Linked DNA regions of Homo sapiens: region 2 is linked to region 1. Evidence: fine-mapped expression QTL. A gene starts in region 1. The other region holds a variant in brackets. All regions are shown on one strand. Distances are between the middles of the regions. Region 1 holds the start of SECTM1 (secreted and transmembrane 1). Region 2 overlaps OGFOD3 (2-oxoglutarate and iron dependent oxygenase domain containing 3).

What was found. PIP is the estimated chance that this variant, and not a neighbour inherited with it, causes the effect. A credible set is the group of variants that fine-mapping cannot tell apart.
Region 2: its variant is the best candidate, but not a certain one, in a credible set for the expression of SECTM1 in whole blood (TOPMed, PIP 0.66).

The regions. Positions count from the first base shown.
Region 1 is chr17:82,327,121-82,343,219 of GRCh38, reverse strand. SECTM1 (secreted and transmembrane 1) reads left to right here and starts at 9,454. Exons shown (of 5, transcript NM_003004.3): 1 at 9,454-9,520; 2 at 15,928-16,073. The coding sequence starts at 15,980. RefSeq lists enhancers at 8,031-8,100, 10,148-10,950 and a silencer at 10,827-11,111.
Region 2 is chr17:82,399,430-82,415,528 of GRCh38, reverse strand. OGFOD3 (2-oxoglutarate and iron dependent oxygenase domain containing 3) reads left to right here. Exons shown (of 9, transcript NM_024648.3): 2 at 1-131; 3 at 3,999-4,074; 4 at 6,119-6,161; 5 at 9,047-9,111; 6 at 10,149-10,205; 7 at 11,439-11,592. It overlaps LOC124904090 (a long non-coding RNA gene), which reads right to left. Exons shown (of 3, transcript XR_007065956.1): 3 at 16,056-16,099. Among named protein-coding and RNA genes, the nearest start is that of HEXD, 11 kb to the left of the region's middle. RefSeq lists enhancers at 14,595-14,794, 15,525-16,099. The variant C/AC (reference allele first, on the strand shown) is at 7,336.

The sequences.
Region 1 (16,099 bases):
AGAGGACGACAAAATCAGGGGCCGGGATGTTGGAAACTGTTTTTCCCTTTTTGGGCTGGGCCCCTGGATTGAACAGGAAAATAGAAAAGAAAGGAAAGCGGAGGAGAAAGGTTTGCAGCAGGGAGGAGAAACAAGAAAGGAAGGAGGGAGGCTGGCGAGCCTCCAGCCACTGCGTGGTGCGGGGCCAGCACCCCCTCACCCTTGATCATCTCCCATCAGGGAAAGCCTCCGCACCCCAGACCTGCGCGGTGTGGGATGAATCCCTCCCACCTCCGCAGATCACCTGTCAAGGTCAGCTGTTCGCAGCCACAGGGAGCTAAGGGTGCTTTTGACCAAGAGGAATAACGCTTTGGTGGCGGACGGGAGGAGGACGTTGGAGGAAGGAGAGAGAGGTCAGGGTGCACACACTCATGCGCACAAACCAACAGCTGCGTCCAAAAAACCTCCTTTAAGGGGCTCGGTTTCAAACGGCCCCTCGGGCGACTGAACCCGCACTGAGCAGAGGCCCTAGGGTGCCACAAACACAAACGAATTCAAATGTATCAAATGCCCAACTGGTGTCACTCACAGCCAAGTCTAAACAGAGGAGGGCCTCAGCCACACCCCAAAGAGGCAGAGGGTCCCTGGGTGAACTCCAACTAAGGCACCCAGTTCCAAAGTTTATTAACTTCTCCAAAGGTCACTTCCTTTGCACCAGCAAAGCGTTGAAGGCAGCAGGAAGAGAAGGACAGGATTCCCGGACGAAAGCATCTCGGCGGCCACGGGGCAGCTCCTCCCATTCCAGCCACAGGCGCAGCAGCCAGGAGCAGCTGGAACTCACAGGTGAACCTACGCCCTGCCCAACAGAAACCAGATGGGCAGGCTTGGGCCCCCCAAAGCACACAACGTTCCCCACACGGGCCACCAAAATTGTAACCGAACGCAAGTTCCGTTCCTCACCACTTGCAGAGTCCAGTAATCAAGAGGGAGGCCTGGTTGAAAGAAAGTGACTTTATTATCCGAAACTAGTCATGGGCAAGGGGCCGCATTCCCGTCCAAAGCAACCACTTCAAATTCCTAGGGAGAAGGCAGGGGCTTGTCACGGGGAAGCTGGCGTGGGAGGCGTGCCGGCGCCGTGCTGGGTACAAGGTCTGTGTGTCTGTCCTCAGTGGCTATCTTGGGTCCCAGTACACTTGGAGCGCAGGCTGGGGTCATCTGATCAACGGCTGGGTGGCTGACTTGCTGCCTGGGGGAAACCTCTGGAATTTTGCCGCTGAGTTTCCAGGGTTGGTCTGTCTATCTCAAGATTAGGCCCTGGAACGTTTTTGAGACAGAGTCTCGCCCTGTTGCCCAGGCTGGAGTGCAGTGGCACAGTCACAGCTCACTGCAGCCTCCTGGGTTCAAGTGATTCTCCTGCCTCAGCCTCCCAAGTAGCTGGGATTACAGGTGTGCACCACCACGCCTGGCTAATTTTTGTATTTTTAGTAGAGATGGTGTTTTACCATGTTGGCCAGGCTGGTCTCAAACTCTTGATTTCAAGTGATCTGCCCACCTGAGCCTCCCAAAGTGCTGGGATTACAGGTGTGAGCCACCATGTCTGGCCCTTTTTTTTTTTTTTTTTTTTTGAATAGAGGAAAAACATACAGGACTCACAAAGAACTGAAATGTTCATGAATCTCAAGCAAAACAAGAGTTAACTAGGCCAGGCGTGGTGGCTCACGCCTTTAATCCCAGCACTTTGGGAGGCCAAGGTGGGTGGATCATGAGGTCAGGAGATTGAGACCATCCTGGCTAACACGGTGAAACCCCATCTGTACTGAAAATACAAAAAATTAGCCGGGCATGGTGACGGGCGCCTGTAGTCCCAGCTACAGGCTGAGGAAGCTGAGGCTGGAGAATGGTGTGAACCCAGGAGGTGGAGCTTGCAGTGAGCTGAGGTCACACCACTGCACTCCAGCCTGGGGGACAGAGCGAGACTCCATCTCAAAAAAAAAAGTGAACTAAATGGACGGCCCTCAGAAAGCACCTTTTAGAATATTGCTGATCCTTGTTTTGTTTTTCAGAGTCAAAGAAACTTGAACTGTTCACGGCCTTTAATAATTGAGCAAGGTACTCTCCTGTGAACAAAATTTGGAGCATGTTTGTTTCTCTCCCTGGTTCCTCTAGAATTTGGAAACTATTTGTGAGTACTCTTATGGTGATACAGTTGGTTGCATCAGTGCAATAAGAATCCATTTTTCTTGGCCAGGCGTGGTGGCTCATGCCTGTAATCCCAGCACTTTGGGAAGCCGAGGCGGGCAGATCACAAGGTCAGGAGATTGAGACCATCCTGGCTAACACGGTGAAACCCCGTCTCTACTAAAAATACAAAAAATTAGCCGGGCGTGGTGGCGGGCGCCTGTAGTTCCAGCGACTCGGGAGGCTGAGGCAAGAGAATGGTGTGAACCCAGGAAGTGGAGGTTGCAGTGAGCCGAGATCACGCCACTGCACTCCAGCCTGGGTGACAGAGCCAGACTCTGTCTCAAAAAAAAAAAAAAAAAATCTCGGATACGCTGAACAAAGACAACTATCATTCCCATGCCCTCGGAGAGGGATTTAACCGAGACAGGAGATGGGGAGGCAGGTGCGGGACAATCTCATCCTAGAAAGACCGTCAGGGGGAAGCTCTTCTGGGCAGCGGCTCCTCAGGGAAGTTCTGCTGCCGCATTCTGATGTTACAGAAATGCTTCCTCGCCCTTCCTGGGAGGTGGTCTAATGCCACCCCAAACCTCCATCACTGACAGCCTCTCAGCATGGGGGAACTGGGTGTGAGGAAGCTGGGGAGGGCACTGGGGGAGGGTACAGGGGAAGAGGCACAGAGGGAGGACACGGGAAGAGGGTGTGGGGGAAGGACATGGGGGGAGGGCACAGGGGAAGAAGGCACTGGGGGGAGGGCACAGGGGGAGGGCATGGGGAAGAGGGCACTGGGGAAGAACACAGGGGAGGGCACTGGGGAGGGCACAGGGGAAGAGGGCACAGAGGGAGGACACAGGGGAAGAGGGTGTGGGGGAAGGACATGGGGGGAGGGCACAGGGGAAGAAGGCACTGGGGGGAGGGCACTGGGGGAGAGGGCATTGGGGGAGGGCATGGGGGAGGGTACTGGGGGAGGGCAGAGGGGGAGAGGACACCAGGGGAGGGCACTTGGGGGAGGGCAAGGTAGAGGGCACTGGGGGAGGGCACGGGGGAGAGGATACCAGGGGAGGGCACTGGGGGAGGGCACTGGGGGGAGAGGACACTGGGGGAGGCACTGGTGAGAGGGCACAGAGAAGCACTGGGGGAGGGGTTGGGGGCAGGGCTTTTGGGGGCACAGGGACTCTGGGGGGGTCTCCCAGAGGCGTCTCCTCTCCAGCAGCCCAGAACCAGATCCTCACTCTTGGGTGTCTTTGGGAACCCTCCCTCCTCTCCCCATGAGGCTGGAGGAGGCATCTCCAGGAAGCTTCAGATCCAGGACCTGCGACCTTGGGCACCCTCGGACCTGGGCATTTGCTGGTGGTTAGAGTCTTCCCGGGAACAGCGTCCTGATTCTCTGGGAATTCCAGGAATCAAGGGGCAGGCAGCCAAGGGGAGAGAGTAGAATGTGGTCAGACCACTCCTCCTGCACGGAGCACCGTCCTGGGGGCACATTGGAGGCTCCCCTGAGTCCAGGGCTCCGCAGAGCAAGCAGGGCTGGGCACGGCCATTGACAGGATTCCTGGCCGGGACAGGCACGGCCATGACGCTTAAGTCAGACGGAAAGCAGCAGCTCTGTGGCCGGAGGACTGAGAAGGGTCTGCAGATGCCGGCGAGATGCCAGCCCCAGTGCCAGCCGGTGTCCAGGTTCTTGACACCATCATGAGGAAGAATTCGGGATGAGTAGGAATGAGACAAAAGGCAAGAAGCTTTTATTGTGAAGTGAATGCCTGCGCACAGGAGAGGCACGGGCGTGCTCCGAGAGTGAGTCACACACAACGAGGCCTGAGTTTCTATTTTATGGGCTTTCCTAGTTAGAGGGTGGAATAATCATTAGATTTTCTAGGAAAAAGGTGACGATTTCTTAGAATTGGGGTGCCAGATATTTTTATACTAAATATGGGCATGGTTGGATCTGCCGTGACGCTGGTGTGTACGTGATTGTGAATGGCAGTCAGTGTGCAATTAGGTCTGGGGTGGGCACAGGTCAAGCCTAGTGCCACGGTGGATCCGGCCAGCCTCCTCCAACGTAGCCTCTCCTGCTTGTGGGGTCGAGGGTCTCATCAGTCCGGGCTCATCCCTGCCTTTGTGGCTCATTCTAACAGCTGCTTTCCGTGGCTCATTCTAACAGCTGCTTTCCATGGCTCATTCTAACAGCTGCTTTCCGTGGCTCATTCTAACAGTTGCTTTCTGTGGCTCATTCTAACAGCTGCTTTCTTGCTTTTCTGCAAGATTACTGTTTGATATTTCTCATTTCTCCTATGACCACCCAGCATTCCTATCTCATTGGCTAGGAAGGATTACTATTAAAAGTATTTTCTCTTTCTCTCTTTCTCTCTCTCTCTCTCTCTCTTTGAGGCAGGGTCTCGCTCTGTTGCTCAGGCTACAGTGCAGTGGCCTGATCTCGGTTCAATGCAGCCTCGACCTCCCAGGCTCAAGAGATCCTCCTACCTCAGCCTCCCAAGTAGCTGGGGCTACAGGCACTGGCCACCACGCCCGGCTCATTATTTTATTTTTGTGAAGATGGGTCTCACTGTGTTGTCCAAGCTGGTCTCAAATTCCTGGCCTCAAGAGATTGTCTCACTTCAGCCTCCCAGAGTGCTAGGATTACAGGCATGAGCCATCGCACCCAGCCCTAAAAATGCCATTCTTTCTAAAATTAAGCTATAACAGCTGGGCACGGTGGCTCACGCCTGTAATCCCAGCACTTTGGGAGGCCAAGGTGGGTAGATTATGAGGTCAGGAGTTAGAGACCAGCCTGGCCAACACGGCAAAACCCCGTCTCTACTAAAAATACAAAAATTAGCCAGGTGCACGCCTCTAATCTCAGCTACTAGGGAGATTGAGGCAGGAGAATTACTTGAACCCGGGTGGTGGAGGTTGCGTGAGGTGAGATCGTGCCATTGCACTCCAGCCTGGGCAACATAGTGAGACTCCATCCCCCCCAAATAAATAAATAAATAGAATTAAAATAAAGTGAAGCTATAAAGACAGTGAAATCCCAAAAGAAATACCAAGAAGATTGGCAAGTGAAGGGGCTCAGGGCAACATAACTGGATGTTCGAGGAGCACAGCCTTTTCAGGTGGAAAATAACAAGCTGGGTTGTGGATTCCACCAAAAGCAGAAACACATGCTGGGTAAGAATTTAAAATTAGCCTCATATTTTAAAACTTCCGAATATTATAAAATAGATAAATTAGAATTAGGTTAGCACAAGACAAGAACAAGAGCAACAAAACGACAAAGACTGAAGCAAACATTTTAGACTTTTTATCTGTGGTGCCTGCCTGTGGTGCCAGCTACTCAGAAAGCTGAGGCTGGAGGATCGCTTGAGCCCAGAAGGTCAGGGTACATTGAGCTACGATCCTGCCAGTGAACAGCCACTGCAAGCCAGCCTGGTCAACTACAGGAGACCCCATCTCTTAAAAAAAAAAAGCCTCCAAATATATGATTAAAAATTCCTAGAACCACAAGAAGAGGCTGCTAAGCCCCCACCATAGGAGGCCATTCCAACCTATCTCTCTTAATTACTGATAGCTCAAGCCCATACAAATTGACAAGTATATAAAAATACAAAAAATTAGCTGGGCGTGGTGGCGGGCGCCTGTAGTCCCAGCTGCTGGGGAGGCTGAGGCAGGAGAATGGCGTGAACCCGAGAGGCGGAGCTTGCAGTGAGCTGAGATCGTGCCACTGCACTCCAGCCTGGGCGACAGAGCGAGACTCCGTCTTAAAAAAAAAAAATTGACAAGTATATAAAAGACCTAACCTACCCCACTGACACCTTGACAGGAGGGACACCTGCAGAGACCCTTGCTCCCAACAGTCAGAGAATATTACATGTTGGAAGGACCCGTGAGACCCTTCCAGCCAGTGAGCAGTGGGTACAACTGAGTCATGCACAAATCTGTGGGGCCGGTTGGCTCGGCTCCCAGGAGGCTGCGAGTCTGTCCACGGGCCGAGGGCTTTGGGGGGCGGCCCCCAGGTGGCCGGGGGTGCGCGGGCAGAGTGAGCAGGACAGTGGGAGGGTCAGAGGCCCTTTCATAAAAGTGCGCAGAGCAGAGGAGCGATCCCCCTAGCTCCCCCACAGAGGGTGCTGCACCTGCGGCCCCTGCGGAGGTACTGGCTTGGCCAGCCCGGGAGGAGGGGCCCAGCCTGTTGGGACAGGAGATGGGGTGCAGGTGGAAGGCTCCAAGAGGCATCTGGGCTGGTAACGCGCAGACATCCCAGGTGGGTTGGAAGTGGGTCAAGGAGGCCTGGAGGACCCGGTGCCTGTGGGGGTGGCAGGCGGGCCACATCCTCCACTAGAACCCGAGGTGGCGGCGGGGTCAAGGATGACGAGTTATCTTCGGGACATTAGGAGGAAGCCCCACAGGCTGCAGTCACGTGGGTGGGCAAGGATGAAAGGCAAGGGAACCCAGAGAATCAAGTTACAAAGAAAAGCAAATGCCGCCAGCACAGTGGCTCACGCCTGTAATCCCAGCACTTTGGGAGGCCGAGGCGGGTGGATTGCCTGAGCTCAGGAGTTCAAGAAAAAAAAAGCCTGGCTAACATAGTGAAACCCGTCTCTACCAAAAATAAAATAAATAAATAAATAAAAGCTGGGCGTGGCGGCACGTGCCTGTAGTTCCAGCTACTCAGGAGGCTGAGGTAGGAGAATCGCTTGAACTAGGGAGGCGGAGGTTGCAGTGAGCCGAAATCGCACCACTGCACTCCAGCCTGGGCGACAGAGCAAGACTCTGTCTCCAAAAAAAAGAAAAGCAAATGCTCCAGGACCTTGGGGATTTTAAGAATATGCTGCCGAATAATTTGGAGAGTTAAACAGAAAATCATAACTGAAATCTACAAATTCCTCGAACAGAAAGGAAATGAAACTCCACATGTCACCTGGCACAGCAGAGGCTGTGATTCAAGGACAGGCTGAGGGTGAATGAATCCACACATCCGCTCTAAGATGCCTGATCCCAGCATTGTATAGAAATGGAAAGATACGGCCGGGTGCAGTGGCTCACGCCTGTAATCCAGCACTTTGGGAGGCCAAGATGGGCGGATCACAAGGTCAGGAGATCCAGACCATCCTGGCTAACACGGTGAAACCCCGTCTCTACTAAAAATACAGAAAAATTAGCTGGGCGTGGTGGCGGGCGCCTGTAGTCCCAGCTACTCAGGAGGCTGAGGCAGGAGAATGGTGTGAACCCAGGAGGCAGAGCTTGCAGTGAGCCGAGATTGCGCCACTGCACTCCAGCCTGGGCGACAGAGCGAGACTCCGTCTCAAAACAAAAAAAAGAAATGGAAAGATACTGCCCAGATGTGGTGGCTCACACCTGTAACCCCAGCACTTTGGGAGGCCAAGGCAGGCGGACCACCTGAGGTCAGGAGTTCGAGACCAGCTTGGCCAACATGATGAAATCCTATTTCTACTAAAACTACAAAAATTAGCTGGGCGTGGTGATACATGCCTGCAATCCCAACTACTCAGAAGGCTGAGGTGGGAGAATCAGTTGAACCTGGGAGGCAGAGGTTGCAGTGATCGAGACTGCAGCACTGCACTCCAGCCTGGGCAACAGAGACTCCGTCTCAAAAAAAAGAAAGAAATAAACGTGAGTGGATGGCTGTGCTGTTTGTATGGACCAGGAAAACTTCTAGAAGGATAGGTAAGGCAGTGTCCATAACTCAACCTGGGAATTGAAGCCAGGGTGGGGAGGAAAAGGCAACAGTTGGTTTCATTCTATTTTGTTTCTGTGCCTGTATTACTTCCAAAATAAACAAACTAGTTTCACTTTCACAACATGAAATGCTTTATCAGGATATGCGTTTTCCTCCAACCCCCAGTGGTGTCCCCTCACGGGACAAAAGCCTGCCAGCCTTCAGCTGCCCTCCAGAGCCTCACGGTGCAGGTGCTCCTGCCTAAGCAGCCGGACCCCCCTGCCCCCAGGAACTGCAGCCCCCTCTGAGTTGAGAGATCTAGTAGGCAGGAAAAAAGGAGAAGGAAGCTGTGGCTGCTGGGGGATGTGGCCTCGGGGACAAGCCCCTCTGTGCAGAGGACGTGGGCAGGTGGGATTTCAGCCCCCTCTCCAGCATCTCACTGGCAGCCAGGGTGGCTGGGGTTTCCCCGAGGGCGGGGGCTGGGGAATCTGACCTCTGTGCCCCGGCCATGGTGCCGTCTTGCTGGGAGGATGACAGGCTGTGTTTCACCTGCCAATTTGGCGACAGTTTCTCTTTTGGAACATCCCGGGGGACTTTGTTCTGTGCCACCCACCTCTGGACCCTGGGTCTGATGGCTGAGCTGCAGGCTCCAAGGTTCAGCGTCCAGTCTGGCCCTGCTCCGTCCATTCCCCACATTTGAGGGTTTCCCGGAGTTTGGTTCTGCTTCTTCCTCTCTTCCATGAAACTGGGGGCATTGCCCACGCCCCAGTGTCCCCCATCATCTGCCCGGTGGGGACTTGCCCACTCACGTGACTGCAGCCTGTGGGGCCTCCTCCTAGTGTCCCGAAGATACCTGGTCATCCTTGACCCCGCCCGCACCTGCCCGCGTGCCCCCTCGGGTTCTAGTGGAGGACGTGGCCCGCCTGCCACCCCGCCAGGCGCCGGGTCCTCCAGGCCTCCTCGAGCCACCTCCTGCCCACCTGGGATGTCTGTGGGTTCCCGGCCCGGATGCGTCTTGGAGCCTTCTACCCGCACCCCAATCTCCTGCCCCAACAGGCTGGGCCCCTCCTCCCGGGCTGGCCAGGCCAGCACCTCCGCAGGGGCCGCAGGACGCCTGAAGGCCCAGGCCGCAGGTGCAGGACCCTCTGCGGGGGAGCTGGGGGACATCACTCCTCTGCTCTGCGCGCTTTTATGAAAGGGCCTCTGACCCTCCGGGGGTCCAGCTCACTCTGCCCGCGCACTCCCAGGCATCTGGGGGCCGCCCCCCGCCCTCCCTCCCCGCGGCCCACTCGGCCCGCCCAGCTCGCCCCGTGCACAGACTCGAGGCCTCCAGGAGCGGAGCCAAACAGCCCCGCGGGGAACGCGCGCCGCACGCGAGCTGGACCCGCCCAGGCACGAACTCTCCTGGAAAAATGCTCCCGGCGGCTTTCCTGCTTCCTTTAGCGTGAACCGCGGGTGCGGTGCCTCCCGTGAAAATAATAAATTCACCGTCACGCTTGTTGTGAACGCGGGTGGTTCCCGAAACTTGGAGGCTTCCCGTAAACCCAGCTCCTTCCTCATCTGGGAGGTGGGTCCCGCGCGGGTCCGCCGCCTCCTCCCTGGCCCCTCCCTCTCGTGTCTTTCATTTTCCTGGGGCTCCGGGGCGCGGAGAAGCTGCATCCCAGAGGAGCGCGTCCAGGAGCGGACCCGGTGAGGCGCGGAGAGGGGCGGGCGGGGGAACCAGAGGGGCGGGCTCGGTGCTGGGGACTCGGTGCTGGGGACTCGGTGCTGGGGACTCGGTGCTGAGGGCCCGGTGCTGGGGACTCGGTGCTGGGGGCTCGGTGTTAGGGCCTCTTGGTGCACTGGGGTTGCCGGTCCGCGCAGGGATGGGGACTCTGGGGCTGCGGCGCCTCTGCCTCTGGGACCGTCACCCCCCGCTGGCCCTGAGCGTGCGTCGCAGGCCAGGCGGGCGGGGTCGCAGCGGGCGTACCCGAGTATGGGCGGGAACGAGCTGCCGGCCGGTGTGGGGACCCGCGTCCCTGCCCTGTGCGCCAGGCTCGACTCTTGAAGGGACAGAGGCGGCGTCTCGGACCCGGGGCTCCCCTAAGTCCGATGGGTCGGAGCCCCCTCCTCCCTTCCCGGTCCTCGGCCTCACCCGGGGTTCCCTGCGCCGTCGCTGCGACCAAGCTGGGAGCAAAACGCACTCGCTCATATGCGTGCACACAAGCTGGTGGACACACGCACATGAGCACACGCAGGCACGCGTGGACTGTTGCACACTCCACAGCCACAGCCTCGTGTGCACTCACAGCAAACTCATGAAACAGGAACCGTGAGGCTTCCCTCACCCGGCAGGCCCTCAGCTGCCCGTTCTCACGCGGGTTTTGCTGACTCCGCAGTAATCACCACATTCAGTTCCTTGCCCACTACTGGTGAATCACCTGCAGCTTGAGAAGCACGTTTTCTGCCGGTGGTCAGCAGAGGATCCCCGGCTTCTAGGAGGCCCAGGGCGACCGGCTGCAGGAGCCCGCGTAGGAGGCCTGTCTCCAGCAGGGCGGGGGTGGTGGCAGGGCCTCTCCACGGGGCTGCTGCTGAGCCCAGAGCGGGAGGACAGGAGGCCACCAGCAGAGGGGACAGGTGAACAGGTGCTGAGCAGGAAGGGTTAGCCCGGTCTAGCCCCAGGCCTGGGGGGCTTTGCTGCTCACCTGGGGTCCCCTCTGGGCCTGGCTCAGCAGAGACCAGGGCAGAGCCGTCCACACCGTGGGCCTGGGTGGGGTCCATGGCCTCTGCAGGCTGCAGCTGTCTTCTGAGAGGTGTTGGTGTGCTCATTCTCGGTAGAGACGTGGGGTCACCTGTGTTCCCTGAGCCCCTGCAGCAGCTGGGAAAGCAGTGTCAGCCACCCCTCAGGTGCTGTGGGGGTACAGAGTCCACTGACCACACAGGAGGACCCCAATGAACCCAGCCCGAGGGGGCCGGAGCTTCCACACACCCAGCACCCATGGGAGCCGGGACAGGCAGGCGCCCGGGGCACCAGGGAGCGGGAACAGGCATGCGCAGGCGTGCTGGGCGGTGCGTGAACTTTCCTAGGCGTGTCACTGGCATGGCTCCAAGCCTGCGCATCATCGCTTGTCAGGGAGCACTCAGACCCTGCCGTGTCTGGTGCCGGCGCCTCAGATACCGACCCCTGTGTTCGTGGTTTGAGAGAAATCTGATTGCCGCCTCCATCTTTTCCCGCTCTAGAAGTTTGTTTTTTGTTTTGTTTGGTTTGAGACGGAGTTTCGCTCTTGTTGCCCAGGCTGGAATGTAGTGGCCAGATCTTGGCTCACCACAACCTCCACCTCCCTGGTTCAAGCGATTCTCCTGCCTCAGCCTCCCAAGTAACTGGGATTACAGGCGTGCACCACCACGCCCGGCTAATTTTTTTGTATTTTTAGTAGAGACGGGGTTTCACCACGTTGTTCAGACTGGTCTCAAACTCCCGACCTCAGGTGATCCACCTGCCTCAGCCTCCCAAAGTGCTGGGATTGCAGGCATGCGCCACCGCGCCCGGCCCACTCTAGAAGTTTTGAGGCTCCGTGCGCCTCGTCTCCCTGTACCTGGTCTCCCTGTGCCAGGTCTCCCTGTGCCACACACGGAGCTGCCCGGCCAGTCACCGCCCACCTGGCCACTTTCCCTGGGGCCGCGCCCTGCCGCCTGCCCTCTCTCTGATTTTTAGCCACTGCGTGGCATTCAACTCAAGCCCACGCCTCTGGTCAGGAGGATGGCAGGAGAGGACTCAGGCAGACGGGCAGAGTGGCAGAGCTGCCAACAAAAACGCAGGATACCCAGTAACATCTGAGTTTGAGATCGTTAATCGTGTTTTAATATAAGTGTGTCCCGAGTGTCCCACGGGACAAGCTTTCACCAGGACATCATTGGTTGTTTATCTGAGACTCAGATGTGACCAGATGTGCCTGGTGACCTGAGAGGGGCCTGTGTTGCCAGGGTGCGTTTTCTTCTGATAAACGGAGCAAATTCCCACAGCAACCCAAAGTCGCTGACACCTGCTGCCCAGACAGAGCTGGGGCCACGCATGGTCCGCAGCCTGAAGCCTCGGGGTAGAGCCAGACCTGCCGCTCTCCTCCCGGTCTCCCCCCAGCTCCCTACCCCCTGAGCCCTTCAAAGTCATTCTCAAGCCAAAGACAGGGGTCTTCCAGGCCCAGGGCTCCCCTCCACGGCTGACTCATTCCACACCTTTCCCGCCACTTGCCGGGTGTGGACCGACAGGAAGGGCACCGCCACCTGCTCCTAGTACCCTCCAGCCCATCCCTTGCCGCCCTTCACCCCTGGCTGGACAAGGGTCAGGGTCGCCAACATTGGAGGGCACTCAGTGGGGAGCTGGTGAAGGTGCTGGGAGGAAGGGAGGACCGGGGAGAGGCAGTGAGAGGACCCGCGTGTGAGAAGCAGCGGCCGCCACCACAGTTGGGCTAAAGGGACTTGGTGGGGAGGCAGCATCTCCGGAACGGTGCAGTCCAGGCCGCCAGGGGCTGAGACCATGGAGAGGATGAGGCCAGAAAGACGGACAGTGCCAGCTTCTCACTCCCACCCCCCTCTCCCCAACCACTGCAGCCCAGGGCCCCAGGTCTTCAGGAAGCAATCGGCAGGGAGGCTAGGAGCCAGCACTGCAGGGTCCACCCTCGGTGGCAGAGGCATCTAGGAGCAGCTGTAGCCCCCGAGAGCAGAGGCTCCACCGAGCTGCTGGCCCCATGGAATGCACAGCGGGCAGACTTGGGACACTCAGGGTGGAGGGGAGGCAGATGCAGCCACTGCCAGGCGGGAGGAGCTTGGCATGAAGCCAGGTGCGTGCAGCTGGCCCTTGGGGGCCTCCAGGACCCAGCTGCTGAGGTCTGGCTCAGGGTGCAGCTCTCTGCCGAGTCAGGGCTGACTCAGGACACAGACGGGTGGCAGAGCCAGCACCTGGGTGGGCAGGTGGGGTGGACGCAGCGCTGTCGGGGCTCTCTGGGGATCTGTGACCTTTGGCTGTGTGCCCAGAATTCCCACCCCTAACACATGGCAGGGGCAGTCCCTGGAAGCATTTGTGAAACAGACTCAGATGGCCTCCAGGCTCCAGGTGAGGGCAGGACTCCCCAGAGCAGCCTGGGGAGAGCAGCAGGGCATCCCCTCCCGGACACGGTCGGCGGGGTGGTGCGGAGAGCAGTGGGGGAGCCCCCAGCAGCCCCGACCCTCCCTGCTGTCCATCTGCACGGTTCCAAGGTGGGTGGCTGAGCTGGCATCGTGGAGCGTGGGGTGAGGGAGCCGGACCCAGGCCCCCTGGGGTCTCCTTGTGTGAACCTCACCTCCATGCAGGGGTCTGCAGGTGGCCTGGGTCTCCCACCGCACTGGGGGTGGGGGTTCTGTGGTCGGCTACCAGTCCCCAAAGATGTCACGTCCTCATCCCAGAACCTGACATGGCAAAGAGACTATGCAGATGGGATGAAGCCTCGGGTGCTGAGCTGGGGCATGTGTCCTGGGTCACCCAGGGGGGCCCTTGATGCCATCACAGGGTCTCCAGGAGAGGGAGAGAGGAGGGGGAGTCAGGGAGATGAGGGAAGCAGCTGGGGGGCAGTGGTGGGGAGATGGCAGAGGGGCCATGAGCCGAGGGATGCGGATGCCTCTGGACGCTGGAGACGGAGAGGGACAGATTCCGCCTGGAGCCTCCAGAAGGGACCACCCTGACCCACCCCTTGATTTTAACCCAGGGAGACCCCGTCGGACTTCCAGCTAATCTAGAATGCTGGACGTATGATGGGAGATGGGGCCCGAGCCTGTCTCCAAGCCCATCTGAGCAGCCCTGAGGGGTCACAGCAGGAAAGGGGGTGTTAGTGAGGGGCCACAAAAGGTCTCAGGTGTGGGTTCCCTCCCCTTGCACTCAGCCCTGACAGGGTGGGGTGGGGTTTCCAACAGAAGGGACTGGACTTGTACTGAGCATAGCGGCTGCCTGGAGTGGGGAACCCAGACCTCAGGACACGGCACCCGCAGCCTGCGCCAATGTGGGACCATCCCTGAGCCTCAGCAGCACCTCGGGGTTGGTGACGTGCCTCCCAGCAGTGACAGTGTCCCCACACCTGCACTCTGCGGCTGGCAGGGTCTTCCACGTGGAGGCAGGACCATGGTGAGAGTATGGGAATGACCGGGTGGCTGCCTGTGGCTGTGCAGGGCCCAGGGATGACTAGAGGCATGTTCACAGGGGGTTGGAGCGCTTGGGGCAATGGGACGAGAAGGCCGGAGCCCGTCTGCAAGCCAGGTCCTCAGCAGGCCCAGACTCCAGGCTCCAGGAGGACCCCTGGTAACATGGGGTCCCCGGGGTTGGTGACGTGTCCTGCTGTGACACTTTCTGGTGGTTTATTTGTTTGGAGAAACACACATCTATAAATCTATAGACATCTATAAATAGCACGTCTGAAGGTCGCTTTACAGAGTTCCCTCATGGGAGTTCCCTGCAGGTCATCTGCACTCCGGCGTGTGGGCTGCACTGGGAGCTGGGAGAGGCAGGGCTGGAGTTGCCGCCCTACCTAGGGACTTTTCCTAGCAGGGGTGCAGGCACCCGAGAGGCAGGGCAGCCTGGCCACGAACCCTTGCCCCAGCCGCCTTCGAAGGTGGAGTTCTCTCGGCTGAAAGGCGTGTCCTGCCAGGGCTCCTGCTGGGCCTTACCCGCTGCCCCACCTGGAACAGACCCAGGCTGCCTCCCCTCACTTTCCCTTCCCTGGTCCCTTTCAAAGTCCAGCAGGAACGTCAACAGGTTCATGCAAAAGCACGTCACCTGGTCCACGTGAGGGCCTGACCTTTGACCAGCCCAGGCATCGGCCCAGACCCCACCGGCGGGACTGACTGAGTTAGGGTTGGGGTTAGGTTAGGGTAGTCTCCTGTGCAAGGCTGAGCTCCTGCGTGGAGGCAGGTGGGGCTTTGTGGAGCTTCCACACAGGGACCCTCATCCCCCAGCCACTCTCAGGGGATCCAGATCCACACGGATCCAGCACCTCCTGTATGCAGGGCATGAGTGGGGACCCCGTGGGAAGCACAGAAGCGGCGACCTCGCTGGGGCCTGTGAGAGGCTCATCACTGCCTGTGGGGCCCTCCCCCAGCACCGTGGGTGTGTGCCCTGGAGCCGCCTCTGCCTGGCGGGAGAGGAGCCACACAGCTAGGGGGCCCCTAGTGTTTGCAGGCCTGAGACAAGATGGCACAAGGAGGCTCGCCTGCTGGAAGCTGCCCAGCAGCCTGCCTTGCCAGTGAGAGCAGCAGAGGTAAAGCTGACTTGCGCATTAGGAACACACAGAGGTGTAAACGATGGATTCGAAAGGAACGCAACTGAGTGCTGCCCCGGGAGGGGGGCTGGTGGACGGGCAGGGTGGTGGGGGGGCTGGTGGACAGGCCGGGGAGGCTGATGGACAGGCTGGGGAGGCCGGTGGACGGGCAGGGTGGGGGGGCTGGTGGACGGGCTGGGGGGGCCGCTGGCTGCAGGTTGTGGTCAGCGCTGGGCTTGGCTGGGGGAGTCGGACCCTGGGTGCTGGTCATGTGAGGGTCTCTGTGAGTGACTGGAGGTCTGGACAGGACCCACGAGGAGACAGACACGCTCCAAGAATTGTAATGCCGAAGCTCTGTGCCCTGGGTGTGCAGTGATATCAAACACATGCTCCTAGGTAGACGGAAAATTGGTTTCATGCTTAGCGTTGGTGAGGGGCTGGGGCTGGAGGCTGGTCTTAGTATAGTGTTAGGTCAGACACGGCTACCAACGATTCCACCTGTCCTGACCCATTTCTATAGGAAACATGCTCAGGCACAGTTACGAGTAATTTATTGTAAAACAAAAGGGCTGACCCGCAAGGCAGATGGGGTCCCCGCTGTGCTGCGGGCAACTCTGTCTCCCGCCCCCGCGTGTCTTCTTTGTTTCGTGAGGTCAGCATTGCACACCCTCTACAGGCACAGGGAAGGGAAGGAGGGCAGGGGCTCCAGCATCCAGAGCAGGTCGGGGAAGAGCTCGGGGACCCCCAGCCTCCCAGCCCCCGCCAGGTGACAGCCGCTCCCGCTGTCCCCTTCAGCAGCTGCAGGGGGCTCTGACCCATGGGCTTTCCTTCCTCCAGGGAGTGTTTCAAGAGCCAGTGACAAGGACCAGGGGCCCAAGTCCCACCAGCCATGCAGACCTGCCCCCTGGCATTCCCTGGCCACGTTTCCCAGGCCCTTGGGACCCTCCTGTTTTTGGCTGCCTCCTTGAGTGCTCAGAATGAAGGTAGGTCTCGGGGCCCCGCCTCTCTG
Region 2 (16,099 bases), 72 kb before region 1:
CCTGCTCTGGAGCAGCTTGGGGGCCGACGACGGGGTCGCAGAGGTCCTGGCCCGCCGTGGCGAGGTCGTGGCAGGGAGATTCATCGAGGTGCCCTGCTCTGAGGACTACGACAGTCACCGCAGGTTCGAAGGTAGTTCAGGAAAGCAACACTTTAAAATGAGACTCAGTGTGGTTAAAGGACATTGGCTGCGACGAAGGGGTGGGAATTGGGTTGGATGTGGTATGCTTGGGGGTAGCAGACAACCTCTCCCCTCCTGCAGGCTGGCTAGTCCACGTCTGACTGGGAGTGCAGGTGTTTCGCGCCCTGCCCATCACTGCCCGGCCACGGTTGGCGTTTTAGTAAGCTGTGCGGTCCAGCGGAGGAGATGGTTTGCCTTGGAAAGATAGGGATGAGAAAGTCAAAACCAGAAAGATTTTTTGACTGGAGAATGTGGTAGAGTCAGAGAATGTTGGGGAAAATGTAACAAGAAACGACCAGCAGCCCTTCTGCCGTCCTGTGCCCCAGCTCCCCTCCCCCGCTCCCGTTCTGCCTGGGCCTGAGAGATGCGGGAGGTGGTGGTTCCAGGGCAGCCCAGAGCCTGGAGCAGCGCTGCGGTTGGCCGGGCCGGGGTTCAGCACCTTGGAGAGCGCACGGCCTCGGAGCAGGTCTGACCGGGCCGGCCACCGCACACCCCCTGTAGGCCTCCTGTCGCTTCTGTTTTCTTGAACATTCCATGCCACCTGGATATATTCTTAGTTTTAAAAGTCCAGCATGCGCCGCTGGGTTTTTGAGGCAGAATTCAGGTTTTAAAAATTCAATTCAATGCTTTGCACTTGAACCAAGAAAAGATTGCCAAGTTCTTCCACAAAGGGGCGCCGTTGTGACGCACGTGAACGTGGTCCCAGCCGCGCCGCAGGGAGGGACGGGACCGCCTCGGAGTCAAGAAAATGAACGTGTTTCTGTTGTGTGTTGTTGTGGGTGCTCTCTCTTTCTTAGCAGAAGTTCTCTCTCTAACATCCCAGCTTTCCAAAACTCTTTTTTGAATGCTAGCACGGAGCAGAAATTTTTCATGTTATCATTAATAATTTATCGACATTAAAAATAGTTTCAATGGCCTGGAGCAGTGGCTCATCCTCAATCCCAGCACTTTGGGAGGCCCAGGCAGGAGGATCGCTTGAGGCCAAGAGTTCAAGACCAGACTGGGAAACACAGTGAGACCCCATCTCTACAAAATAAAAAATGGGCCAGGTGTGGTGGTGCACGCCTGTAACCCCAGCTCAGGAGGCAGAGGTGGAAGAATCACTTGAACCCAGGAGGTTGGGAGGTAAGGAGGTCAGGGCTGCAGTGAACCTAGAGTGTGCCACCGCACTCCAGCCTGGGTGACAGAGCGAGATCCTGACCCCCCGCCAAAAAAGAAAAAAGTTGGAATGAGGGAGGGAGGATGGAAGTCCATGTTTAATAGATTTGGGATTTCACCTGTGGGAGGTGGAAAAGTTCTGGAGGTGGTGCTAGTGACGGCTGCACGATGCTATTGTGCCCGATGCCACCACACTGCGCACTTTTTAAAAAGCTTGGCTAAAATGGTAAATTCTATCTTGTATATATTTTACAATAAAACAAATGGTTTGATGTATTTTCTTTTTCTTTCTTTCTTCTTTTTTTTTTTTTTGGACAGAGTGTCACTCACTGTGTTGCCCAGGCTGGAGTGCAGTGGCATGATCTCGGCTCACTGCAACCTCCGCCAGGCCTCTTGGGTTCAAGTGATTCTCCTGCCTCAGCCTCCTGAGTAGCTGGGACTACAGGCACCTGCCACCATGTCTGGCTAATTTTTGTAATTTTAGTAGAGACGGTGTTTTGCCTATGTTGCCCAGGCTGATCTCAAACTGCTGACCTCAGGTGATCCACCTGCCTTGGCCTCCTAAGGCCCTGGGGTTACAGGCATGAGCCACTGCGCCTGGCCTCTAATTTTTATTATTATTGTTTTTTAACTCATGAATTACTTGGAAATTTAAAAGATTTGGAAATGCGTGGGATTTTTGGTCCCTTTTCACAACGTTGTGGGTATTTCTCCTGACCCACGCTCGTGTGCACAAATTCTCATCACCAGTTTCTGTCTCCTTCACCCACCGGCTATGGAAAGGGGCGTCAGAACCTCCACTGAGCATGGACCCAGCAGCGTCTGTGCTTTGGTTGCCACGTGTGTCATGGGGCGATGCTGTCTGCTGTCTGCTGCCCCTTCCCCTTCCTGCCGAGTCGCTCCTGTGCCGCGGGGGACCCTCTCTTCCCTCTAGTGATTCTCTTTGCTAGTACAGAGGCTGCGCCACGGGCCTGTGTGGCTCTCATTGCATTTGCTGTTTGCTTTCCGCTTTCCTGTGTCCTCGCGTTTTGTGGGGTAAACCTTATAAAAAAGCATAAAATGACTTTTTGTTTTTGAAATACAACACCTATGTCCATTAGATCATTTAACCACAGTAACTACAGCCCCCCTTCCCTGATATTCAGCCAAGTGGAGCTCTGTTTATCTCCTGGCACAAGGCCCAGAGAAAGGAACCAAGGTCATCTCGGTGCCTTGTGATCCCTGGGTCCAAGCCCCTGATGCTGGCACTCAGCACTGAGTGCGAGGCTTTTATTCCCATGGTCCCGGGAGGGATGCTCCACGTCCAGGCTCAGGGCTGGCTTTTTAGGCAGGATGTAGGGAGAGGGAGGAAAAGCATATTGTGGAGTCCCGGTTTGCCCCATGTCCTGGTGCTTGTGGGCTGCTGTCTGATCGATCAGGCATGGCCTGACGCCTTTCCAGCGCATGAAGCCAGCTGCACTTGGTACCAAACCACAGGGGCGGGTCCCTGGGCCCCTCTCCGACACTCTGCTGTACCTTGTGCATCTGTGCGATGCTGCCTCGACCACCCTGCCCCTGCCCTGACCACCCTGCCCCAAACACCCTAACCCTGTCTGACCACCCTGCCCCTGCCCCAAACACCCTGCCCCTGCCCTGTCCACCTTTCCTCTGCCCAATGACCCTGACTCCTGTCCACTCTGATCCTGTCCCAACGACACTGCCGCTGCCCCAAACGACCTTGCCCCTGCCCCGATAACCATGCCCCTGCCCCGATAACCATGCCCCTGCCCCGATAACCATGCCCCTGCCCCGATAACCATGCCCCTGCCCCGATAACCATGCCCCTGCCCCGATAACCATGCCCCTGCCCCGATAACCATGCCCCTGCCCCGACCGTGTTGCTCCTGTCCCAACGACCCTGCCCCTGCCCCGACCACCCTGACCCCCATTTGAGCTGCTGCTTCCTCTTCCCTCTCAGCCTCCGCAGGTCACCAAGGTACGGGGAGAGACAGGGGCATGTGCGGAGCAGTTCGCTGTGCCCTGGGGAAGGACTGGGACTAGACCCACAAGCTCCACTCTGGTGGTCTCAGGAGGGTTTTCTGCTCCAGTGGTCTCAGGAGGGTTTTCCTCTCTGGCGGTCTCAGGAGGGTTTTCTGCGCCAGTGGTCCCAGGAGGGTCTTCCTCTCTGGTGGTCTCAGGAGGGTTTTCTGCTCTGGTGGTCTCAGGAGGGTTCCCCCCTCTGGTGGCCTCAGGAGGGTTTTCCTCCCTGGTGGTCTCAGGAGGGTTTTCCTCTCTGGCGGTCTCAGGAGGGTTTTCTGCTCTGGTGGTCTCAGAAGGGTTTTCTGACGGTGCCTGTGGGTGTCTGGACCTGCAGTCAGTGATGGTTCAGGAATGCTGTTGACGCCGTGTCTGGGGTTTCTGTGACTTTCCCAGGGTTTGGGGCAGCAACAGGTGCCTCTGGATTAAATTTCCAGTTGGAGCCACTGGAAGCCAAGGTGGCCCAGTGAGACGTGAACTCCAGATGCACCGCACAAAGCGCATGCACGCTGGAGAGCTGTGGTTGTGTGTGTCTGAAATTCACATTTGACCGGGCGTATTAGCCAGTTCTGGCCCTGATTCCCTGGAAGGGCATGCGCCGGTGGCCTTGGAAACTGCGTCTCACCCTGGCTGTCCCTTCACAGGCTGCACTCCCCGAAAGTGCGGCAGAGGTGTCACCGATGTCGTCATCACCAGGGAGGAAGCGGAGCGGATTCGCAGGTAACCGCCTGTCCCTGAGCACGGTGGGATTCAAACAAACACACGCGGAGTGGGGCTAGGGCGGGAAGCAGAGCATTGTTAGTAATAAAGTGGTTTTAAGGATTTTATTGCCAGGCGTGGTGGCTCACGCCTGTAATCCCAGCACTTGGGGAGGCTGAGGCGGGCAGATTGCCTGAGTTCAGGAGTTCGAGACCAGCCTGGGCAACATGGTGAAACCCTGTCTCTACTAAAATACAATAAATTAGCTGGGTGTGGTGGCATGTGCCTGTAGTCCCAGCTACTCAGGAGGCTGAGGCAGGAGAATCGCTGGAACCCGGGAGGCAGAGGTTGCAGTGAGCCAAGACTGCACCACTGCACTCCATCCTGGGCGACAGAGCGAGATTCTATCTCCAAAAAAAAAAAAAAGATTTTATTATAATTTTATAAGAATTTCCAGGCTGGGTGCGGTGGCTCATGCCTGTAATCCTAGCACTTGGGGAGGCCAAGGCGGGTGGATTGCCTGAGCTCAGGAGATCGACACCAGCCTGGGCAACATGGTGAAACCCCTGTCTCTACTAAAATATGAAAAATTAGCCGAGTGTGATGGCACACTCCTGTAATCCCAGCTACTCAGGAGGCTGAGACAGGAGAATTGCTTGAACCTGGGAGGCAGGGATTGCAGTGAGCCGAGATTGAGCCATTGCATTCCAGCCTGGGTGACAGAGTGAGACTCCATCTCAAAAAAAAAAAAAAAAAAAAAAAAAAGAATTATGTGCTTTCAAGGGCCAAGCTCAGATTTTCCGATTTCAGGAGAGGAGACCATGGCCCTCAGCGAAGCAGTAGCTGGGAGAGTACCCAGAGGCCCAGGTTCCTCTGCAGGGGTTGTGGCCGCCTCTGGGGGCTGCTGCTGAGTGCCCCATGCTCCCCACGGAGCCTCCGGGACACTGCTCAATGACCGCTCAGTGTCTGCTCTGAAACTGCCTCCAGGGAGCCCGTCAGCCCACCTGGCTATGACTTGTGGCAGCACAGGATGCCACTCAGAGGCTACTGGTGCTGGACTTTTCTTACTGAGATCTTAAAAGAAAGTTTTGATTTTCCAACCACTTGTTGAGACGATAAGCATGTGGAATGGTGTGCAGCCCTGGGCCACGTGCCCTGCCCTGAGATTCTCCCCAGGGAGCCTGCCCCCGAGGATGCTGCCTAGCTCCACGCAGGGTTACTGCTGCCTAGCTCCAGTGGGGTTACTGCTGTCTGACTGAGGCACCGGCGTGTCCCCACTTGGTGTCCACAGGCAGCTCCCAGCACCTGTGGCAGCTCAGGGTGGTCCTCTGTGGTCCAGCACAGCTGGCGTGTGGGTGTCTTTCTCCCACCATGGTCAGGGCCCCTATCTCCTGAGCTGGTGAATCTCAAAGCTTCCCCCACCTGCCTGGGGTTCCAGGAGAGATGGGGAGCAGTGGGCCCTCCCCTAGATGCTCCCCAGGCTCCTGAGCTTGGCCCAGGTGGCTTTCGATATTGAAGATGAGAGATTAAGCCCAGCCCTCCCTTTCTCTCTCTCTCTCTCTCTCTCTTTTTCTTTCTTTCTTGACAGAGTCTTGCTTTGTTGTCCAGGCTGGAGTGCAGTGGCGCGATCTCGGCTCACTGCAACCTCTGCCTTCTGGGTTCAAGCGATTCTCCTGGCTCAGCCTCCAGAGTAGCTGGGATTACAGGCACCTGCCATCACAGCTGGCTAATTTTTGTATTTTTAGTTGAGACGAGGTTTCACCATGTTGGCCAGGCTGGTCTGGAACTCCTGACCTCGTGATCCACCCGCCTTGGCCTCCCAAGGTGCTGAAGCCCAGTCGTTTCTAAGCTGAGTCAAATATTGACAAGACAACGATGGCAGTATTGTCGCTTACGCACTGAACTTTGAAAGTTGAGTCCTTTGGTCTAAACATTTGTTTACATCATAAACATTAAACACGCAGGACCCACTAATGTTGCATTAATTTTGCTGATTGACGTTTGCCTAGATTATACATTATAGACAATTCTAGCAACGAAATTCTGAATTATTTTCTCCCTGCAGCGTAGCTGAAAAGGGGCTCTCCCTGGGAGGATCTGACGGAGGGGTGAGTTGAATGTAGTCCCTGCCCCCCTTTTTTTACCCGTTAACTTTGCTCTCACTTGGATGGGAAGGGGAAGGCACAGACATGCAGGGTTCCCTGCGTGCCCCCAAATGTGGGTGGGGCCTGCCGTGGTGTTTCTCAGCACCAGCCGCAGCAGCTGCGCCTGACTGAAACCCGTGCGGCGTCCCCTCGTTGGGAAGAGTGTGTCCTTAGATGTGCGTGGCCATCTATTCATGGCATGTCACGGCCTGCCTGGCTCCAGTTCACACTGGGGGATAGAGGGGGTCGGAAGCAGGGAGCCGGCAAGGGAGCGGGGTGGGAGCCCAGCGAGGAGACGGCTGCGCATGCTGGACACAGGAGAGCCCGTGGAGCTGCCGGGAAACAGCAGGGCCTCCGTGGGACAGACACGCTGCAACGCATCCTGCAACTTCCTAGCTGGACGCCTCCATGGACGCCCTGTGGGGCTGTCGTCCCATGTGAGGCTGCAGGGGGTCAGCTAGTGGCCTCGGATAATGTGTTCACCTGGAGCCCGTGGACATGATCTGATTTGGAAAAGGGACCTTTGCAGATGTAATTAACTTAAGGATCTCAAGATGACATCATCCCAGATTTAGGGTCCTAAATCCAATGGCAAGTGCCTATAGGAGACAGAGGCAGGGGGAGATTTGAGAGGGAGGAGGAAAAGGTCCTGTGATGATGGAGGCAGAGATGGGAGCAGTGCGGCCATGGAAGAGGCGGGCAGGACCTCCCCTGGAGCCCTGGGAGGGAGCAGGGCCCCTCCCACACCTCGATTTTAGACTCCTGGGCTCTAGAACTGTGAGAGAATAAACTTGTGTTGTTTTAAAGCCCCAGTTTGTGTTACCACAGCCGCAGGGATCATGGAGCCACCGCCGGCTGTGGCCTCGCCCTCCTGTTGGGCAGTGGCTGGGAGTCAGTCTGGTGCAGCTGGTGTTAGCTCCAATTCCCATGCGGTTTCCTCAGGGTTGTTTTCTTGCTCGGTGTGTGGAATTGTCTGAAGATCTGTTTCTCTCTGTTTATTTGGTGATCGCTTTGAATTATAATCACTGAATAGACTTGAGTCTTTCTGCATATTTGAAACTTCTAGAAAATTAATTTATAGACTCTTTGAGAATTTCAAAGTATTTCTGTGATGGTCTGTGTGACTTTTTTCTGCAAA[C/AC]TCTTTTCTCTTGAGTTCTGAAAATTAAGTTCCTTTTTTTCTTCTTTTTTTGAGACAGAGTCTCGCTCTGTTGCCCAGGCTGGAGTGCAATGGGGCGATCTCCACTCACTGCAACCTCCAACTCCTGGGTTCAAGCCATTCTTCTGCCTTAGCCTCCTGAGTAGCTGGGACTACAGGCATGTGCCATGATGCCCGGCTAATTTTTGCATTTTAAATAGAGATGAGGTTTCACCATGTTGGCCAGGCTGGTCTTGAACTCCAGAGCTCAGGTGACCCACCTGCCTTGACCCCCCAAAGTGCTGGGATTACAGGTGTGAACCACCGTGCCCGGCCTAAGTTCCTCCCTTTATTTCAGTTTGGTTTGGTTCAGTTCGGGGGCTATTTGTTAAAGATCTGTGAGTGAGTAGGTTTCTGTTTCACAGCTCCTCCACGTTCACATGGGAAGTTGTCCTGCATGGAGCTGGCTGGGCCGCTGCTTTGGGTTCAGTTACTGTTCAGCGGGCCCAAGCTAGGTTAGTGCCGCAGGGCCAGTGGCTGTGGCGATGAGGAAGGGGCAGCAGTGGGGCTCCTCTGGGGTCACAGGTGGGATGACTAACGTGGGCTGGAAGCCTCTTCCTCTGAGGACGTAGGGAAGGACTGAGAGGTGGGTGGTCGGGCAGGAAACACTTCAGCAGTGGCTTACAAAGTGATGACTCAGGCTTGGCGTGGCGCGCACTGTGGTGCCAGCCGCCCAGGAGGCCAAGGTGGGAGCACCGCTGTGAGGCATTTACTCGAGAGAAGTCAACACTTGCCCACAGGGACACATGACTGTGACTGGCACGGAGCTGCACGGAGATGGCTCCAGACTAAAAATAGCCCACACGTGCCACCATTCTTTAGGTCACAGGGAACAAAAGTGTTTGGTCCAGGAAGATTTTTTTTTTTTTTTGAGATGGAGTTTCGCTCTTGTAGCCCAGGCTGGAGTGCAATGGCACGATCTCGGCTCGCTGCAACCTCCGCCTCCCTGATTCAAGTGATTCTCCTGCCTCAGCCTCCCAAGTAGCTGGGATTACAGCTCCTTGGGAGGCTATCTCTGTAGGTGTCCCAGCTACAGCTGGGATTACAGCTCGCCACCATGCCCAGCTAATTTTGTATTTTTAGTAGACATGGGGTTTCACCATGTTAGCCAGGCTGGTTTTGAACTCCTGGCCTCAAGCAATCCACCTGTCTCAGCCTCCCAAAGTGCTGGGATTGCAGGTGTGAGCCACCACGTCTGGCCGGTCTGGGAGGATTTTAAGAAAGTCCTGGGTTGAGGCTGGGTGCAGTGGCTAATGCCTGTAATCCCAGTACTTTGGGAGGCTGAGGTGGGAGGATCACTTGAGCCCCGGAGTTCGAGACCAGCCTAGGTAATATAGTGAGACCACATCTCTACAAAAAATAGAAAAATTAGCCAGGTGTGGTGGCGAGCGCCTTTACTTGGGAGGCAGAGGGTGGGAGGATTGTTTGGCCTGGAGCCTGGAATATTGAGGCTGCAATGAGCTGAGATTGTGCCACTGCGCCCTAGCCTGGGCAACAGAATAAGATCCTTTTTACAAAAAACAAAAACAAAAACAAAAAAACACCTGAGGTGTGTGCTGGCCAGACCTTGGAAACTCGCATTTACCATCCATGACTTTTAACAGCCATTGCCATTGCTGCGGCTGCACGCTTTACTCCACAACGTCTTTTCCAGGCATCCATTCTGGACTTGCACTCAGGGGCCCTGTCTGTCGGGAAGCACTTTGTGAACCTGTACAGGTGAGTGCTGCAGCATGACCTCAGTGCTGGCTCTGAAAGCCGAGTGAGCGGCTCCGTGCCTCTTAGCCATGGACATGTGGACACGTGGACATGTGAGGGAGGATCCGGCTCGGTGCAGCCTCAGGGCCTCAGTGGCTGTGATGTTGGCCGGGTCCTTCCTGGTTCTTTGGGACGCAAGAGCTGGGAGGTGTGGACTCTCCACAGCCTGTGGGCAGGGGGCTTGTTCATGAAGCTTTAGGGGAATCTGGTGTTTTTGTGGGCCCAGGGACAGAAGGGATGGGAGCAAGAGGCAGCAGAGATGGGAGGCTCCCAGGAGCAGCTTCCAAGAATCCAACGGGGCCTTTGACGCTCCATGAGGGGCCGGGAGAGCAAAGAGACCCTCCCTGCGTGGATCCGTGTCAGCCTCATGCATTAGCCCTGGGTCTTGCTCCCGGCTGGCTCCTTGTTTTTATTATTATTATTATTATTTTGAGATGGAATCTTGCTCTGTCGCCTAGGCTGGAGTGCAGTGGCGCAATTTCGACTCATTTGACTCTGCCTCCTGGGTTCAAGCAATTTTCCCATCTCAGCCTCCTGAGTAGCTGGGATTACAGGCACGCACCACCACGCCCAGCTAATTTTTGTATTTTTAGTAGAGATGGGGTTGTGCCATGTTGGCCAGGATGGTCTCGAATTCCTGACCTCAAGTGATCCACCTGCCTCGGCCTCCTGAGTAGCTGGGGTTACAGGCACGCACCACCATGCCCAGCTAATTTTTGTATTTTTAGTAGAGATGGGGTTGTGCCATGTTGGCCAGGATGGTCTCGAATTCCTGACCTCAGGTGATCCACCTGCCTCGGCCTCCCAGAGTGCTGGGATTACAGGCGTGAGCCACTGCGCCCGGCCCGGCTCCTTTATAGCAGTTATCATTGTGGAAATGGAGTTGCTCTGAATGTGTGAGTTGATTTTCAGGGACTTGAGGAATGGCTGAACTGAAAGGAGATGAACAACAGATTAATGAAGTGTTGTGACCTTTGTGAATACTCCTTTTTTCACAGATACTTCGGGGATAAAATACAGAACATCTTCTCAGAGGAGGACTTCCGGTTATACCGGTAAGGAGGAGTGAGGCGGGTGGGGGTTCGCAGGCGGGGTGGCCTGGGGCTGAGGGGTGTGGCAGAGCTGGCCGGTCCGGGGAGGCCCCACGGAGAGGCCCAGGGGCCAGGGCCAGGCCTGCAGAAGTGAGTTCTCATGGAGCAAAGGCCGGGGCAGGCCCAGCGTGGCCAGGATGCGCCCGGGTCGGTGAAACAGATCTGGAATCCTGTGGCTGCATCCTGGTCAGAACCTCTTGTTTTCTGCTGTGTAAAATCAGCCCAGTTTTAAAAATTCTGCCAGATGAGGCTGGGTGCGGTGTCTCATGCCTGTAATCCCAGCACTTTGGGAGGCGAGGCGGGTGGATCACCTGAGGTCAGGAGTTCGAGACCAGCCTAGCCAACATGGTGAAACCCCATCTTTACTAAAAGTACAAAAATTAGTTGGGTGCGGTGGCGGGTGCCTGTAATCCCAGCTACCCCGGAGGCTGAGGCAGGACAATTGCTTAAACCCCGGAGGTGGAGGTTGCAGTGAGCTGAGATTGCACCACTGCACTCCAGCCTGGGTGACAGAACAAGCCTCATCTCAAAAAAAAAAAAAAAAAAGAAAAGAAAAGAAAAAATTCTGCTGGAGGAGCCCAGGTTGAGATGAGGGCAAAGGAGCTAAGAGTCACGCAACCATCCCAGGACACATGAGTGACCCCCCTCGAGCCCCCCACATGGGCCCATGCCCACCCAGACATCCATTTCAGAGCCGCTCTGGCCTGGCACATGGGGTCTTCTGAGCGAGAGTCCCTTTGTCCCCAGTACAGACACCCCATCCACACTTAGCAGGCTCGACACCCACTCCCCTCTCCCCACGTCCACACACCCCGCACACTCACGTTGGGGGACAGCAGCCTCTTCGTTGCTGAATAGGAGGCTGGGCTCCAGGCCCTGCAAGTGAAGCCTGGAGGCTCTGGCATCTGGGGCCTGACTCCACACCAGCCTCCCCAGCGTTGGTCCTGCAGGCCCCCTTCTGCCTCCCCAGTCCTGCTGCTGTGGTCTTGCGCCTGCCTCTGGCTGCTCTGTGCGTGGGCTGTGGGCCGCGTCGTTCCCAGGCGGAGCCGGTATCTGTTCCCGGTGTGCTTGGGAGCCCCCGCCCCGCGGGCCCGGAGCCGTACGAAGGCTGGTTCCTTTCCTGCCACCCACGGGTTGGGACCCACGAGCGTCCCCTCCCGCCTGGGGCTGCGCTGACGGCTATTGTGTCCTCTGCAGGGAGGTGCGGCAGAAGGTCCAGCTCACCATTGCTGAGGCTTTTGGCATCAGCGCATCCTCGCTGCATCTGACCAAGCCCACCTTCTTCTCCCGCATAAACAGCACGGAAGCGCGGACGGCGCACGACGAGTACTGGCATGCGCACGTGGACAAGGTGAGCGCGCCCGTGGGCAGGGTGAGCGTGCCCGTGGACAAGGTGAGCGTGCCCGTGGGCACGGTGAGTGCGCACGTGGGCAGGGTGAGCGCGCTCGTGGACAAGGTGAGCGTGCCCGTGGGCAGGGTGAGTGCGTACGTGGGCAGGGTGAGTACGCACGTGGGCAGGGTGAGCGCGCATGTGGACAGGGTGAGCGCGCATGTGGTCAAGGTGAGGCCTGTTCTCCCGTGGCCTGGGGCTACCTACCACAGGGCTGTCTTTTGCAGCATCCGCCTGCTGTGTGCATGGTGTTAGGATTGATTGGTTGAGACAGAGTCTCGCTCTGTCGCCCAGGATGGAGTGCAGTGGCGCGATTCGGCTCACTGCAACCTCTGCCTCCCGGGTTCAGGCGATTCTCCTGCCTCAGCCTCCCGAGTAGCTGGGACTACAGGCATGCCCCACCAGGCCTCGCTAATTTTTGTATTTTTAGTAGAGACGAGGTTTCACCATGTTGGCCAGGATAGTCTCAAAATCCTGAGCTCAGGCAATCCTCCTTCCTTGGCCCCCCAAAGTGCTGGGATTACAGGTGTGAGCCACCATGCCCGGTGGGTGTAAGCATTTAGATGTCTTCCTCTCTGAGGTTTCAGGGCACACCCTCAATCTCACTGATGGAGTTGGAGAAATAAAATTTCTCATTTGATGGTGACAAGAAGAAGTGGAGAACCCGGCCCACACGGCCTGTGGTTACCCCATTGTTATTTATTAACAGACTGATGCTTAACCTCTTACGGCAGATGGTCTCTGCTCAGCCACTCATGCTCTCTGTGGCCCAGGTCTCTGTGTTGTCTCTGGGAGCCTTCTTTTACCACTTTCTATCTTTCTTTCTTTTATTTCTTTTGAGTTACAGCTTCACTCTGTCACCCAGGCTGGAGTGCAGGTGTGCAGTCATGGCTTACTGCAACTTTGACCTCCCAGGCTCAAGCCATCCTGCTGCCTCAGCCTGGGACTGAGACTATAGCTGGGACCACAGGTGCGTGCCCCGACGCCTGGCTCGTTTTTCTATTTTTGTAGACACAGGGTTTCACTATGCTGCCCAGGCTGGCCTGACCTCCTGGGCTGAAGCAATCCTCCCGCCTCAGCCTCCCAAGGTGCTGGGATTACAGGCGAGAGCCATTACCCATCCCATTTCTTTTCTTTCTTTTTTTTTTTTAAGATGGAGTTTCACTCTTGATGCCCAGGCTGGAGTGCAATGGTGCGATTTCAGCTCACTGCAACCTCCACCTCTTGGGTTCAAGTGATTCTCCTGTCTCAGCCTCCCAAGTAGCTGGGATTACAGGCACATGCCACCACGCTCGGCTAATTTTTGTATTTTTAGTAGAGATGGGGTTTCATTGTATTGGTCAGGCTGCTCTTAAACTCCTGACCTCAGGTGATCTGCCCACCTTGGCCTCCCAAAGTGCTGGGATTACAAGCGTGAGCTACCATGCCCAGCCTTTTCTTTCTTTCTTTCTTTCTTTTTTTTTTTGAGACAGTCTTGTTCTGTTGCCCAGGTTGGAGTGCAGTTGTGTGATCTTGGCTTACTACAACCTCCGCCTCCTGGGTTCAAGCGGTTCTCCTGCCCCAGCCTCCCAAGTAGCTGGGACTACAGGCATGCACCACCACGCCCAGCTAATTTTTGTATTTTTATTAGAGACAGGGTTTCACCATGTTGGCCAGGCAGGCCTCAAACTCCTGACCTCAAGCAATCCACCTGCCTCGGCCTCCCAAAGTGCTGGGATTACAGGTGTGAGCCACCGCACCTGGCCCTTAATAAAAGATTTTAGAAGATAAAAGTAAAGCACGGCTAATACAAAGAATGGTATTATAGCAATTCTTTAAGGGTGATTTTTATGGTGTAGAAGCTGTGAGTTCCCTTCATACAGTCAACCTGGATGGAAGTGGTTGAATGGCACTGTGAGCCCTGGAGCTGAAGCTCAAATAGAAGATTAAAGCCAGAAAGCACATGGCTGGGGAGATTAGGACTCTTGCTGCCCCACCATGCCCGCTGTGACAGAGGAAGGAATGGCAGTTAGATGACCAGCTTTCTGTGCCGTGTGACATTTGTTACTAAATTATTCTTCAAGGGCAGTCTTTGTTTTTTTTTTTTTTTTTTTTGAGATGGAGTCTTGCTCTGCCACCCAGGCTGGAGTGCTGTGGCGCGATCTCAGCTCACTGCAACCTCTGCCTCCCAGGTTCAAGCCATTCTCCTGCCTCAGCCTCCTGAGTAGCTGGGATTACAGGTGCGTGCCACTGCGGCCGGCTAATTTTTGTATTTTTAGTAGAGACGGGGTTTCACCATGTTAGCCAGGCTAGTCTCGAACTCCTGACCTCAGGTGATCCACCTGCCTCTGCCTCCCAAAGTGCACTCTGTGCAGTTTCAGTTGTAATCAGAAGGAGAGAGAGATTGCAGTTATAATCTGCAATCAGCATCTGCCATCTTGGCACTCTGCTACTTGGCATTAAAATGGTAAACCCAGGGCCGGGTGTGGTGGCTCACGCCTGTAATCCCAGCACTTTGGGAGGCTGAAGCGGGTGGATCACGAGGTCACGAGATCGAGACCATCCTGGCTAACACAGTGAAACCCTGTCTCTACTAAAATACAAAAAATTAGCCGGGCGTGGTGGCGGGCGCCTGTAGTCCCAGCTACTCGGGAGGCTGAGGCAGGAGAATGGCATGAACCCAGGAGGTGGAGGTTGCAGTGAGCCGAGATCGCGCCACTGTACTCCAGCCTGGGTGACAGAGCAAGACTCCATCTAAAAAAAAAAAAAAAAAAGGTAAACCCAAGGGAACAGGAACAGTGAAGGAACCCAAGGCCTGGGACTGCCTTCAGTCCTCCTCTCTCCCTCTCGGGCTGCAGTGTCGGGAGCAGCCGGCGCCACCGCTTTGCCGTAACCACTTTAACCACTTCCTTTTTCACGACTGCACGGCACTTACTGGCCTTCCGCCGGCACAGACAGCAGATTCGCCCTGGTCCGGTCGCTCCCGGCTCCTTCCATGGCCCCTGACCGAATTTTGTCTGCTCATCAGGAAACCAAAGTGGCGTCTGAAGATCAGTGTTTTTCTAATTAGCAGAGACTTTACTTCAGTGAAACAGAACTGTTTAGAAACCTGGGTGATTTTCGTGGTGTTCTGTGGGGAGCTATTTTGCTATGACTTCTGGCCAGTGTACTTTATTTTAAATTTAGTTTTGAATAAATCATGCATCAAAATTTGAATATTTGAATAAGTAATGCATCCTACAAGATTTAAAAGTCATATATATATATATGTATATAAATAAAGGCGAACCAGTAACCCCCTCACCTACAGGTAACCACAGTCCTGAGATCTCAGAGTTCCTTCTTGAATTTCTCTGTGTGTATAAAAACGAATGCATAAGAATACCGCATTCTGTCAGTTGTAAAGAATCACATTTAAAACAGTTTTGGCAATTGTTCCTTCTTCCCATTGCATAACATAAGGCAGCTGTGGCTGTCAGATCATGGACCCTGGTATGGTTTCCTTTTTACAGAAGGCAGTGCAGTCCGCACGCGGCTTTGCTCACTTGACGTCTGTCTTACTCTGGTCTCCCCAGAATCAGAGCCTGGCATGGACTTGTGTTTGGGAAGCTTTTAAGGGGGGACTCCGGGGGGCATCTGTGAGGCCTGGAGGGGGCAAAGCCCATGGGAGCTGAGCCCAAGGGGCCTCCTGGCAGCTGGGAGGGGCAGGGGGGAGGGAGCTTGACCCACCGCCCAGGGCACCACCTGAGACTGGGCTTCCTTACAGCGGATTATGTGAGGTGGATATTGGCGGGTCGGACTGGGGGCTGGGCCCCAGCGTGATCCTGCTCTCCTTCCCAGGAGGACTCAGAGGAGGCCACCTTGCCCAGGGGGAGGGCCCGGTGTCTGCCTTCAAGCCTGGGCTCTCTCCACTGCACACGAGGCTCTGTTGTGTGTGATGTACCTAGCTCAGCGCCCGCACAGTGGGTGTCCAGTTCCGCGCTGGTGCGGCTCCATCCCCCTTCCCTCCCCAGAGTGTCTCTTTCCCTCCCTGGTCTGGGTGTGCTTATGACAGCTGAGCTGGGTGAGATGCGCCCTCCCCTTTGCAGCTGGTGTCCTGGCAGCTGCACCTTTCACCCCCAGGGCGTGGCCCCAGCTGGGTTCTGGAATGGAAGCTGAGTGCTGCGACCCCTGAGTGAAGTAAGCCAGTCACGGAGGGACAGATCCTGCCTGATCCCACGTCCGTGGGGACCCTAGAGTCGCCAGGTTCACAGAGACAGAAAGCGGAATGGAGAGGGCAGGACTGGGGGGCGTGGGGAGTCAGTGCTTCCTGGGGACGGAGCTTCGGCCTGGGAGGATGAGATGTTCTGGAGAGGACGGTGCGGTGGCTGCACAACATTGGAAATGTGCTTAACATCACTGAACTGTGCTTAAAAACAGTGAAGACACAGTTAAGCTGGAAAATCTTAGGTTCTGCATTTTATTACAAGTTTTAAAAAGCTTGGGATTG